3 separate regions of the Homo sapiens genome follow, and all the other regions are linked to region 1. Evidence: fine-mapped expression QTL. A gene starts in region 1. Each other region holds a variant in brackets. All regions are shown on one strand. Distances are between the middles of the regions.

The links. PIP is the estimated chance that this variant, and not a neighbour inherited with it, causes the effect. A credible set is the group of variants that fine-mapping cannot tell apart.
Region 2: its variant is the best candidate, but not a certain one, in a credible set for the expression of ATP11B in whole blood (INTERVAL, PIP 0.86).
Region 3: its variant is the best candidate, but not a certain one, in a credible set for the expression of ATP11B in whole blood (INTERVAL, PIP 0.83).

What each region holds. Positions count from the first base shown.
Region 1 is chr3:182,791,747-182,795,991 of GRCh38, reverse strand. ATP11B (ATPase phospholipid transporting 11B (putative)) reads right to left here and starts at 2,488. Exons shown (of 30, transcript NM_014616.3): 1 at 2,206-2,488. The coding sequence starts at 2,232. It overlaps ATP11B-DT (ATP11B divergent transcript), which reads left to right and starts at 2,628. Exons shown (of 3, transcript NR_187316.1): 1 at 2,628-2,912. RefSeq lists a silencer at 1,904-2,653.
Region 2 is chr3:182,847,892-182,852,136 of GRCh38, reverse strand. ATP11B (ATPase phospholipid transporting 11B (putative)) reads right to left here. Exons shown (of 30, transcript NM_014616.3): 10 at 3,580-3,661. Among named protein-coding and RNA genes, the nearest start is that of ATP11B, 57 kb to the right of the region's middle. The variant G/CACG (reference allele first, on the strand shown) is at 2,119.
Region 3 is chr3:182,823,252-182,827,496 of GRCh38, reverse strand. The region is part of intron 2 of ATP11B (ATPase phospholipid transporting 11B (putative)); the gene reads right to left. Among named protein-coding and RNA genes, the nearest start is that of ATP11B, 32 kb to the right of the region's middle. The variant C/A (reference allele first, on the strand shown) is at 1,655.

The DNA.
Region 1 (4,245 bases):
CATATAACGAATTAAATATGCTTATAACTCCAACCTGTCCTTAGGATTTGCTTGTCAATTTCCCCAAATTTGTCCTAGTTATCTGCATTTTAAAATAAACCCATTGCTGAAAGTCGTGGTGATTCAATCCATTAAGCCACTGGAAGTATAATCTAAACTAGCTTTTACCTGAGTTGAATAATTTCTGGTGCAGTAATCAGAATAGCTGTCTATGACTGGGATAGCAAAATATACTTTCATTACTCTGTATCCAGGGTCCTTGATGTTTAATTTATGTGATCATACAAACTTAACCAGAGACACAAAGTCCTACATTGGCCCAAGTATGATTACATACTTAGAGGATCTGATAACTTAAAACCAGTGAGGTGAGCAACTAAATGTCAGAGATAGCATTTTTTATGCACAGGAACTTGTTCAACTCGTTAACCATCCCTGTTAAGACGGCTGCCTTGTAAAATAACCACACACAACTTCCGGCCCTTCCTTTTAGCTGGGTTCATTTGAAGCCATTTTAAAAAACATTACCAGGTTTTCTGTCTTGAAGATGAGCATGGTTATACAACCAGGATTTTATTCTGGCTAAAAAATACCTAACAGTGAGAAAGGATGTCTCAATACATTTTTAAAAAAGCTTCAAGAGAACCACTTTAAAATGATCTTCCTACCACACAAAAACACCATCAGGTAAATCAGCCCTCTATACAAGAAGATTTGGCAAATCAAAAGCATAAGATCAAATCTGTAATAATTAACTTTCTGAGTAAAATTACTGTGCTACAGCTTACTGCAACAAAGCCAAAGTATTACAAGATGGTATTATAATGACATCATTAGCTTGGTTTCCTAATAAAGCATATATCTGGGATATCTGAATTTACAATGCTAAAAACAGAGACCCAACATTTGTAGGAGGGAGTGGTAGGCAGTTCTTATTTATAATTTTTTTTTTTTTTTGAGAATGATGCCCGCTGCAAAACGAAGTAACAGAAGGCTGGCTCTGAAACACCACACTTCTTGGTCTTAACGTTAAAATGCTTTTCTAGAGCAGAAGGGAAAAAGAGTTATCAGTGCTTTCGTCCCACAAAAATAGTTCCTGTTTCACTAAATTTTACCACTGCCTTTAGAATTAGTAAATGAAAACGCCAACTTGTAGAAGCATTAAGTTAATGCGATTTAGAAATTAAATAGTAACCGGCCTCATCACACAGATAAGGTTAGGCTTCTTCAGCCAGGGGCAATTTCTGTCCTAATTGTCACAGCTGCCTTAATGCTGTACTTTCTGCGCTGTAGCTGCCAGGAGGCAGATAAGATTTTTCTCTCTGAATTAATTCTGGGAAAGGTGGCACTTTTTATAGGCCTTAAATGACCCTTTTCTAAGATTTTTTGTTGGTGGTGTCCAGATGTTCCAATAATACTGGAGAGTTAACTATTCCTTCCAAACCTGTGTCGTTCAAACTGCCTTGAGGAGAACGGGAAAAAAGTAAGGTTCACACTCGAAAAGTTTCACTCGGGGTGGGGTGAGGACGAGGTAGGAAGGAAACGACAGTACGTATCGTTCGTAACTATCGTACAATACGTATCGTTTCCGAAGCTAGACCGGCAGCTGGCACAGTCTTTCCCCTTTCCAGGTCCTGGGGAGAAACGTCTCTCGCTGAGGGGGCTAGACACCTACGACAGCCTCCTCCTCGGGAATCAACACAGCTCTGGATCGTGACACGCTTCCAGAAGTCCGTGACGAGTGGGGGCAGAAGACAGGTTCTTCGCTTCCCCTTCACCCAAACACGTCCCAAATTGTTCGAGGCAGGAAGAGCACGCCTCTCTCATCTCCCCAAGACCTACTCTCGCTCAGCTCCCTCGCCCTGTTTCCTCTGGGGGCACCGCCACCCCGCTCGGGACTCCCGCCTCTGGCCACAGCAGCCCCGGAGCGGCAAGGGGGAAGAAGTAACGGAGAAGCGCCGGCTAGAAGCGGCCGCCTCCGGCCGCTCGGCGCCAGCCTCGGCGGCCCGGGCTTGGAGGCGAGACGAGCCCGGGAGCCGCACGGGGCTTCTCCGGCTCTGGGCCCCGCGCCCGTCTCCGCTGCGGCCTAGCCGGGCGCCCACGCCCTGGCCTCCCGGCTCCGCGCCGCCGGCCTTTCCCCGCCACCCCGGGCCGAGAGGCCCCGCGGGGGCGGACGAATGGAGGTGGAGGGGCGGGGGCACCTACCAGCTGCTGCCGGATCCAGCGCCACATTCCCCCGTCGTCGCCGTCCGGGTCCCGCGGGGCGCGGGGGCCGCGGGGCTGCAGGTGGAGGCCGACAAGACAGAGGCGGGAGCGGGCGAGCCCCTCGGGCCGAAGTTCCGCTTACCGCCGCCGCCGCCACTGCCTCACTCCCCGCGCCGCGTCCCCATCCCGCGGCGTCGGCCCCGAGTCCTACAGGCGCGGCCCCGGCGCCGCCCCCGCCCGGCGCAGCTGAGCCTGCCGCCGCGCCGCAGCCACCTTCATTATTGACCGTTGTCACCCAAAGCACCCCCGCAACCCCACCCCCGCCCCGCCCCGCCCGGCCCCCCGGCTCCACCCGGGACCGCCCCCGGCGCCCCGGCCCGCCCCCGGACGTGACGAAAGGGGGTGCGCGGACCGAGGGGGGCCTGGCGCGCCCCGCCGCCGTTCCGAGTTGGGGGGTTTCTGTGTTGTGGGTCCGGGAAGAAGCGAGCGTGGAAAGGTGCCGGGTTCTCGAACGCTGTTTCTGTCCACTGCCACCCTCCTCCCCGTTCTGGGAGTGGGATTAAGTCGTGTCTGTGGGTCTGGCCATCTCCGGAGTCTGCAGCTTGGGGCCGATTCCTCGGTCTCTACCTCCTGTTGCAGGTCTTTTTCGGGCTCTGTGGCTTCTTTGGTTCACGCGTCTCCCGACACGCATACGCACAGTCCTGAACGTATGTGACTGAAAGTTAATCCCCCCAGAAGTCCCAGTTTGGGTTCCATCAAGCTGTAAGAGCTTTCGTCTCAACACAAGTCAGGCCTCTTCTTTAGCAAATGGCTGAGACGGGGCTAGGGAAATCTTGATCACACCCATTAAGTGATTCGAAAGCGTTGCAAGTCCCCTGAGCCTGGTACAGCCTGGACCCGTGTTTCTAGGCGAATGGATGAGATATTCTGTCTTGCCGTGTGCTAAATTGGACAGGTTCAGGGGAAGATAATTTGTATAAAAAGGTAGTTCTTTACTGCTAACTGCCAAACTTCTGCAATCAAAAACACCCGTAGCAGTAACTTGACCTAGGTTAAAAAAGTGTGTGGATGACAAGCTCAGAAGGAATATACAAGCAACTGGAACAAGGCTTTGACTTAAAGGTTTGGCGTTGTTTAAAAGCAGCCCCGTATACATATTGTGTTATGTATATGTATTGAATGCTGTATTTTTGCTGAATTAAAGCACACTTCACCGACAGACGTTTGTGGTTAAAAAAAAAAAAATTAAGCGGCCGGGCGCGGTGGCTCACGCCTGTAATCCCATGTAATCCCAGCACTTTGGGAGGCCGAGGCGGGTGGATCACGAGGTCAGGAGATCGAGACCTTCCTGGCTAACATGGCGAAACCCCATCTCTACTAAAAAATACAAAACATTAGCCGAGCGTGGTGGCGGTCGCCTGTAGTCCCAGCTACTCGGGAGGCTGAGGCAGGAGAATGACGTGAACCCGGGAGGCAGAGCTTGCAGTGAGCCGAGATGGCGCCACTGCACTCCAGCCTGGGCGGCAGAAGGAGACTCCGTCTCAAAAAAAAAAAAAAAAAAAAAAAATTAAGCAAGAACAAATCTAAATGAGATTAGCATGACTAGGCAGGTCGTTGAATATGCATCCTCAATCTTCTAGTTTCAGTAGACATTTCTTACTATATAATGCTTATCCAGCACCACAAATAGAATCTTTCTTTGGGGATATTTATGATCTGTAAAACCAACATGGAATTTTATATTATAAATCATCCAACTTCAAAAAATAGCTAGATATTTGAAAAGTCATCTTACTTTTATTCTTGTGGCTAAACCTTACTTTATGACCCTAAAAGGAAGTTTTGAGATATATTTAGTGACAAAACCTTACTGCCATTCATGGAGCACTGTGTCCATTCATGGAGCACCCAGGTCCTGTATCAAGTTCTTTACTTGTATGCTGTAATTTAACTCCAATCAATCCCTTGAAGTAGGTATTATTCCCGTTTTGTATAGATGCAGAAATGGAGGCTCACACTAATTTGGCAAAGCTAGGATTC
Region 2 (4,245 bases), 56 kb before region 1:
ATATTTGCAGATTTTGTTATTGATTTTTAATCCAATTCCCTCATTGTCAAAGAACATACTTTGTATGATTTCAATCTTTTGGGATTGGTTTTATGGCACATCATATGATCTGTCTAGATGAACTTTCCATGTATAATTATGGAACTATTCTAGTGTTCAGTTTTCATAGGCTTACAATATACATAGTATATCTTTTGATGTCAACCTATTTATATCTTTGTATGTAAACTGTATTTCTTCTAGACAGCATATAGTTGGGTCTGGCTCTTTTATCCAATCTGACAATCTCTGACTTCATTAGACTGTTTGATGCATTTATATCTCATGTAATTTTTGGTCAAATTTCGGACCACCATTTTGCTATTTGTTTTCTATTCTCTCATTTGGTTTTTTGTTTCGCTGTTCTTCCTTTCTTGCTGTTTACTGTGTTTACCAAACATTTTAATATTCAGTTGCTCTAACTTATTAGCTATAAATCTTTGCCTTATTGTTTTTAATGGAAGCTCTAGAGGTCAGAATATGCATCTTTACCTTATTGTAATTTATAGATGCTATTGTATTATTTCATGTAAAATGTAAGACCTTTGTAACAGTTCATTTAAAGCCCCCCATCATCTTTTGTGCTGTTTATGTAAGGGAAAAAGAAAGCTTAAAATTAATCATTTGAGTTCATCTAGCATCACAAGAAGTTAAAGAGAAATAATTAGACCCAAATTGAGAAGAAACGGAGGAAATTAATTGAAGATGTGAGCTGAAGGCAATGGAAAAGAGAAAAAAAATACACAAAATTAAAGCCAAAAGTTGGTTCTTTGAAAAATATTTATAAAGAGTCTTTTTTTATTTTTTGAGATGGAGTCTCGCTCTGTCACCCAGGCTGGAGTTCAGTGGTGCGATCTCGGCTCACTGAAACCTCTGCCTCCTGGGTTCAAGCAATTCTCTGCTTCAGCCTCCCAGGCAGCTGGGACTACAGGCGCACACTACCACACCCAGCTAATTTTGCATATTTAGTAGAGACAGGGTTTTGCCATGTTGACTAGATTGGCCTTGAACTCCTGACTTCAAGTGATCCACCCACCTCAGCCTCCCAAAGTGCTGGGATTACGGGTGTGTGCCACTAATGAAGTGTCTTTCTGTGCTTGCTTGTATCACTTAACATAATGATCTTCAGTTACATCCATGTTGCTGCTAATGACACGATTTCATTCTTCTTATGGCCAAATAGTATTCCATTGTGTGGGTATGTATACCTTTTTTTTTAGGTATGTATACATTTTTTTATCCATCCGTCTGCTGATGGACCGTTAGATTGAATCCTTATCTTTGCTATTATGAATAGTGCTGCAATAAACATGCAAGTGCAGATATTCCTTTGATATACTGATTTCTTTTTCTTTGGATAAAACCCAGTAGTGGGATTGTTGGATCATATGGTAATTACGTTTTTAGTTTTTTGAGACATCTCCAGGCTATTTTCCATAGTGGCTATCCTAACTTACATGCCCACCAACCACGTATAAGAGTTTTCTTTTCTCCATATCCCTGCCAGCATCTGTTATTTATTTATTTATTTATTTTTTGTCTTTTTAATAATAGCCATTCTGGCTGGCAAGATGACATCTCATTGTGGTTTTGATACACTTTTTTTTTGTTTTGTTTTGTTTTTTGAGATGGAGTCTCGCTCTGTTGCCCAGGCTGGAGTGCAGTGGCGTGATCTCAGCTCACTGCAACCTCTGCCTCCCAGGTTCAAACAATTCTCCTGCCTCAGCCTCCTGAGTAGCTGGGACTACAGGCACCCGCCACCACACCCGGCTGATTTTTGTATTTTTAGTAGAGACGGAGTTTCACCATGTTGGCCAGGCTGGTCTCGAACTCCTGACCTCAAGTGATCCTCCTGCCTTGGTCTCCCAAAGTGCTAGGATTACAGGCATGAGCCACCGTGCTCAGCGTTGAGTTGATTATTTATATGGTGAAAGATAGGGATCCAGTTTCATTCTTCTGCATGTAGCTATCCAATTTTCCCAGCATCATTTCCTGAAGAGGATGTCCTTTCCCCAATGTCCTCCGTTGTTTCTGATGAGAACTGGTTATCGCTTATATTGTTATTCATTTACATGTGAT[G/CACG]CATTTCTCTTCGGCTCCATGAAATATTTTCTTTTTCTTTGGATTCTAGTATTTTGACCATGATGTGCTTTGGTGTGGGTTTCTTTATATTTCTTTATATTTTTCCTGCTTAGAGTTTGCTGATCTTGGTAGCGTAGGCTGAAGTTTCTTCCTCAAATTTTAGAAATTTTCAGTCATTATTTTTTCAAATATTTTTATTCTGTCCTTTTTTCTCTTTTTTTGGGAATCAATTACACATATGCCAAACAGCTTAATATTATCCCACATGGCTCTGAAGCTCTGTTCATTTTTCCTAATCTTTTTTCCTCTCCATTCTTCGACTGAGTAATTTGTGTTTTCTTCAAGTTCACTGGTCTGATTTATTCAGTCTGGTGTTGAGACCCACCTAATGATGTTTCCATTTTAGTAATTATGTTTTTCAAGTCAAGAGTTTTCATTTCTCTGCTGTGTTTTCCCATATGTTCATTCAAATTTTCCTTTAGGCCCTTAAACATGTTTATAATAAATTTATAATATCTGCTTTAAAGTTCTCGTCTGCTAAATGCAAGATCTGGATCATTTTGGAGACAGTTTCTATTGAGTGCTTTTTATCTTATGGATGAATTACATTTTCTTCATATTCTGCTTATTTTTTATTGCAGACTGGACTTCATAATAATACATTGTAGACAGTCTGTATTCTTTTATGTTCCTCAGAAGAGTGCTATTTTTATTCCAGTAGGAAGTTAACTTCACCTAGTTCAACAAACTGTGTCTCCAATGCAATGGGCAGCAGTAAAATTCTGTTGAGTTCTTTTGTCTCCCTTGCACATGTATAGTTCTAGCAGTCAGCCAAGGACCTGGGCAGAATTTATGTGCAGTTTTTAGAGTTAATTCCATTCTGTAGCTTACATCTCATTGCTTACAGAAGGGAATTAATGCTAATCCCCTTACATTATTTTCCCCTAACTTTCCAGCTGCTCTTCCAGCTATTAACCTTGTCCTCTGATACTTCTATCCAGTAAAGTTCAGACTTTTTGATGTCCCAAGCAGCACATAAACTGGGGAGTGCCCTCAGGCAAAAAGCTATACTCTTAAATTTTCCCCCTTGCTGCTATCATCTTTCAGGATTACACTCCTTGCCCATTTCTATTCGATTCTGGTTTGTCTCCAATGTTTTCAAATAGTTGTTTATTTAAATTTTTTTTTCAGTTTTAGAACTGTTATCTGCGTTAGTGTGATTAAGTGATTCCACCATTTATTCAATAGTATTTATTTTAAAAGTCATACTATAGAGCATTTACTACATGTCCAATACTGTGCAAAATGTTACTTGTATGTAAAAATATAAGAAACTATCACTGTCCCCAAGGTTTTCATTCTGTTTACTTAATATATATTATATATATAATATTTTATACCAAACGAATAAAAAATGTAGAGTTATAATTACATATAAATAAATGAAAACAGTTTTCTTACTTTTCTACTGCAGATCGTTTCTGTGATTTGCTCTTGTAATTTAATGCCATCTTAGTTTCCATTCCAGTGTATACCGCAACACCTGTAAAATAAAACAAAATTGTCTCTTAAAATAATCCTCTAGCATGTTTCACAAGAAATAAATATATTTACCAGCATGAAAGCTTTTAGTGTACTGTCTGACAGTTGTTATAATTTTGCTTTTCTTTAAGTATTTTCAGAGTACTAAAAGGCTTTCTGAGTCCAATTTTGGGAAGCCCCAGTCACTCAACTGGCTAAATGGGGGAGGGCATGGAGTCCTGTTCCTGAGTTGTAACAGATACCTGAATGAAAAATTTATTACTTGAATTGGAATTGATAGAGGAAAAGAATCTGGAAAGATAAAAGTGTCAGGGAAGGCCATTACAAATACAGCAGTGTTAACAAAGACAGATATGGAAAAGCACTTTCTGTTAGGTTGGGACAATGGACTATGGCCACAGTGTGAAAAGCCCTGAATGCTGGAATCGGGGGTCTAGACATTATTCCATAACCATTGGAGAGATAACATGGAAGTCTGTCAGAGTAAATCAAGTAAGCACATGGAAAGTGCTATTTAAAAAATGTGCGCCTATTGAATGACTTTGAGATGAGCAAGGATGACAGTAGTAATGGGACTAAAACTGG
Region 3 (4,245 bases), 32 kb before region 1:
AAACTGTGGTGGCCCAAATCTTAATTTGTAATACTCACTAAATGACCTTGGACTTAATCTCTCCGTGTCCCACTTTGCTCCTCTATAAAATGAGGATAATATTAATCATATCTTATAGGGTTCCTATAAACATTAAATCAGCTAACATACTGAAGAAGCACTTAGGACAGAACCTGGCTCATACTAATTGCTATAAAAGTGCTTATTATTATTACTCAGCTCAAAAACCTATAATGCTGTATTACAAGGGCAGAATAATATGCTGCAAATTTTATTTGTGTTACAACTCACAACATAACTTCATACATGAAACAGGGAAATTGATTTATAGAATGTTTACTTTATGTACATCCTCCCAGAAGAATATAAGATCCCTGAGGCCAGGGATATCATTTTATTTACTGTTCTATCTCTAGCACATATACTACTCCTTGGCACATAGGTAGAGATCAAATATTTTGCAGAATAGATTAATGAATAAATAAATATGGTTGACAACGGGTTTTTTCTGAGATAATATCCTGATCTCAGGCAATGAGGCCTCAATGGTTACTGACCAATTCAAGATTTCCAAAGAGGTACTTTACGTTACCTAGTGTCATGTCAGATGGCTCTAATTTTTGGATTTTCATTGTCAAAAGTTCACTTCTTAATTAGCTGTTTGAGACCTGAAACACTGTTTCCCACATGAACAACCTTATAAACAGAGTTAGGTTCCCAGAAAAGCCCACAAAAGCCTATCTGACCCAGGGATATGGAAAGACTAGTCCAATAGCAACAAACTTTCCTTCTTTGGTGAAATTATATTTTCAGTTTGAATCTGGAATATGTGAAACATATTTTCCCTGAGTAGTGGCGGCAGCAGTGGTTCCAGAATCTGAGGATGGGAAGTATGTTTAGGGCTCTAGAAAGAAGAGAGGTAGATACTTCCTGGAGCCAAAGGAAGTCAATGTTCAATGTATACACATGAGATGGTAATTGTGTGTCAAGTCACCTGCAGGTGATCTTAATTGGAATTAAAAATCAGTTGTCAGAGTATCTCAGTCACCAAATGTATAATACTTTATAAGGAAGGTTGGAAGTCTCCTAAGTTTACAGCAATCTATTTGAAACGTAACAGCAACAATATATTTTGTATTCCAGAATCCTGAAGAGAACAGCTATATAAATTGGCAGTAAAGTAATTGGTTTCAGGGTGTTTTCTTTGGCTAGTTCAATAATACAAGGAACAACTCAGAACAAATAAAAATTTCTTATGAAAACTAGCACATAAATGGTAGAAATTGTTTCTAGTTTTTCTGAAATACAAACATAATAGATTGTGAATGAGTCTAAATTCTGTGCTTGTCCTATTGTATAGAGAGGGAGAACTCTAGTAGCATAATATCAAACATTATGAAAATACTGCTAAGAAAATAATTTATTATGCTTTAAAGTTCTCTTTGTTATGTAATAATGGTTAAGACAAATGAATTAGAAGTGTAACTTCTCTATAGTCATATATGACTTTATAATTGACCTTATTTTCTCCTAAGAAAACTAAAACATGGCTATAAAATTAAATATTTTGCAAGAAGGTTATTTTATTTTATTTTTTTGAGACAGTCTCACTCTGTCTGCCCAGGCTGGAGTGCAGTGGCGCAATCTTGGCCCA[C/A]TGCAACCTCCGCCTCCTGAGTTCAAGCGATTCTCATGTCTCAGACTCCTGAGTAGCTGGGACTACTTGCATGCACCACCACACCTGGCTAATTTTTCTGTATTTTTTTTTTTTTTTTTTGAGACAGAGTCTCACTCAGTCACCCAGGCTGGAGTGCAGTGGCTCGATCTCTGTTCACTACAAGCTCCGCCTCCTGGGTTCATGCCATTCTCCTGCCTCAGCCTCCCAAGTAGCTGGGACTACAGGCAACCGCCACCACACCTGGCTAATTTTTTTGTATTTTTTTAGTAGAGACGGGGTTTCACCCTGTTGGCCAGGCTGTTCTCAAACTCCTGGCCTCAAGTGATCCGCCCACCTTGGCCTCCCAAAGTACTAGGATTACAGGTGTGTGCCACTACACATGGCCAAAGAAAGTTTAAATTTAAGATAATGTAGTTACTATGGCCAGTTAAAGACATACCACACAACCACAACATGCAAGACACTTCCACAATAAGAGAAACAGAAATAAGATGTTTAATATTAAGTAGAGGAGATTAAGAACAAAACATTAATAGCTGTATTCAAAGGTAAAGTGTATGAAAAAAATTTAACAAGACAGTCATATTTGACATGTGCTTTAAAAGAAGAACATTCAACAGGCTGAAAATCCAGGGCAAATAAGGGAGAACATTTCAGGAAGCTAGGACAGCATGAGCAAAGGGACAGGAGAAAAGCTCATCATGGCTTTGTGAGATAGAAAACAATGCAGTCTGGAAGGAGACCAAGAGAATAACAGGGGAGTGAAAGGTAGTAAAATGAAAGTAATGAGAAGCAGGCTTCATTTATGCTCAGGAAAAAAGTGACAGTATCTGTATAAATATTTACATTCTTGAAATTATGGTCAAAGATATGAATTCTACCTTTCTACAAAAACATAAAATCTACAATGTCCACAAATACATAAAATTTACATTTTAAAAATTGTGGCTAACAACATGAAATCAAAGCAAAGGCACAGTGGTAGGAAAGTTCAACATGAGTTTGTGGAATAACAGGTAATCTGTTTTGGAAGGAGTTTATGAAAGCAATAGTGGCGTAATAGGTAGTAATGAGACAGTCCTCATTTACCGTAAACATTTAAAAAGGCAATACTTCTTTAAACATCCACATTTTAAAAAATATGGTCAAAAACATTAAACCAAATACTTCTGTGTACAGAGACAGTCATTTAAAGATACTTATTTAATCCCAAAAGCTTTCTAGGAGGACACTCAGTTTCCACTATTGACAAAGAGGTGGTCCTGTGGACTCCCAGCAGATAAGAATTATAAAGATTACATTTTAAAAACTATGTCAAATACTGGAAAATGTCCAAAATATAGATGGAAACGGGAAGAGAGTTTAATTTCAAAAAATTGCAAATGGAAGAAGTATAAATTGTGAATTTTTGGCTTCTTAGCTTGGAGACAGTATCCACCTACCACACACAACAATGGCTGCAAAACAGCTGGGGAAAACTACAGCCTCATCAACAACATGTAACCAAGATTAGAGTTCAGGGCTGGAAAAGCAGCTGGAAATGTAAAGGGAAAATACTGATTGTCAGAGAACCACACAAAGAAAATGGCTTATATTCAAAACATTAACTACACAATTCCAGGCTGACAGCTAAACTATGCACTAGAAAGGAATGAATTACTGATACTAATACTTGCAACAACAAAAATGAACCCCAAAAGCATTATGTTACGAAAAAAGAAGTCAGGCACAAAAGACTTGTGTTGTATTATATGAAATTCTAGAAAAGAAAAAACTATAGTTACAGAAAGCAGATCAGTGGTTGCTAGTGCCTGGGGGGTGAGGAGGAGGGGGACCTGCTGCAAAAGACCATGAAAGATTTTTTTTGAAGCAATGGATATATTCCACATCTTGATTATGGCGGTGGTCAGATTTGTCAAAACTCATCAAACTGCACACTTAAAACTGATAAATTTTACTGTATGTAAATTATACCCCAAGTTAAAAAAAAAACCTAAAGTTTTCAAGAGCTTTTATTTCTTGCATAATTTCTTAAGAACTGTGTCACTACAAACAAATGGATGAACATTCCATGGCCATGGATAGGAAGAATCAACATCGTGAAAATGGCCATACTGCCCAAGGTAATTTATACATTTAATGCCATCCCCATCAAGCTACCAATGACTTTCTTCACAGAACTGGAAAAAACTACTTTAAAGTTCATATGGAACCAAAAAAGAGCCCGCATTGCCAAGACAATCCTAAGCCAAAAGAACAAAGCTGAAGACATCACGCTACCTGACTTCAAACTATACTACAAGGCTACAGTAACCAAAACAGCATGGTACTGGTACCAAAACAGATATATAGACCAATGGAACAGAACAGAGCCCTCAGAAATAATACCACACATCTACAACCATCTGATCTTTGACAAACCTGACAAAAACAAGAAATGGGGAAAGGAGTCCCTATTTAATAAATGGTGCTGGGAAAACCGGCTAGCCATATGTAGAAAGCTGAAACTGGATCCCTTTCTTACACCTTATACAAAAATTAATTCAAGATGGATTAAAGACTTAAATGTC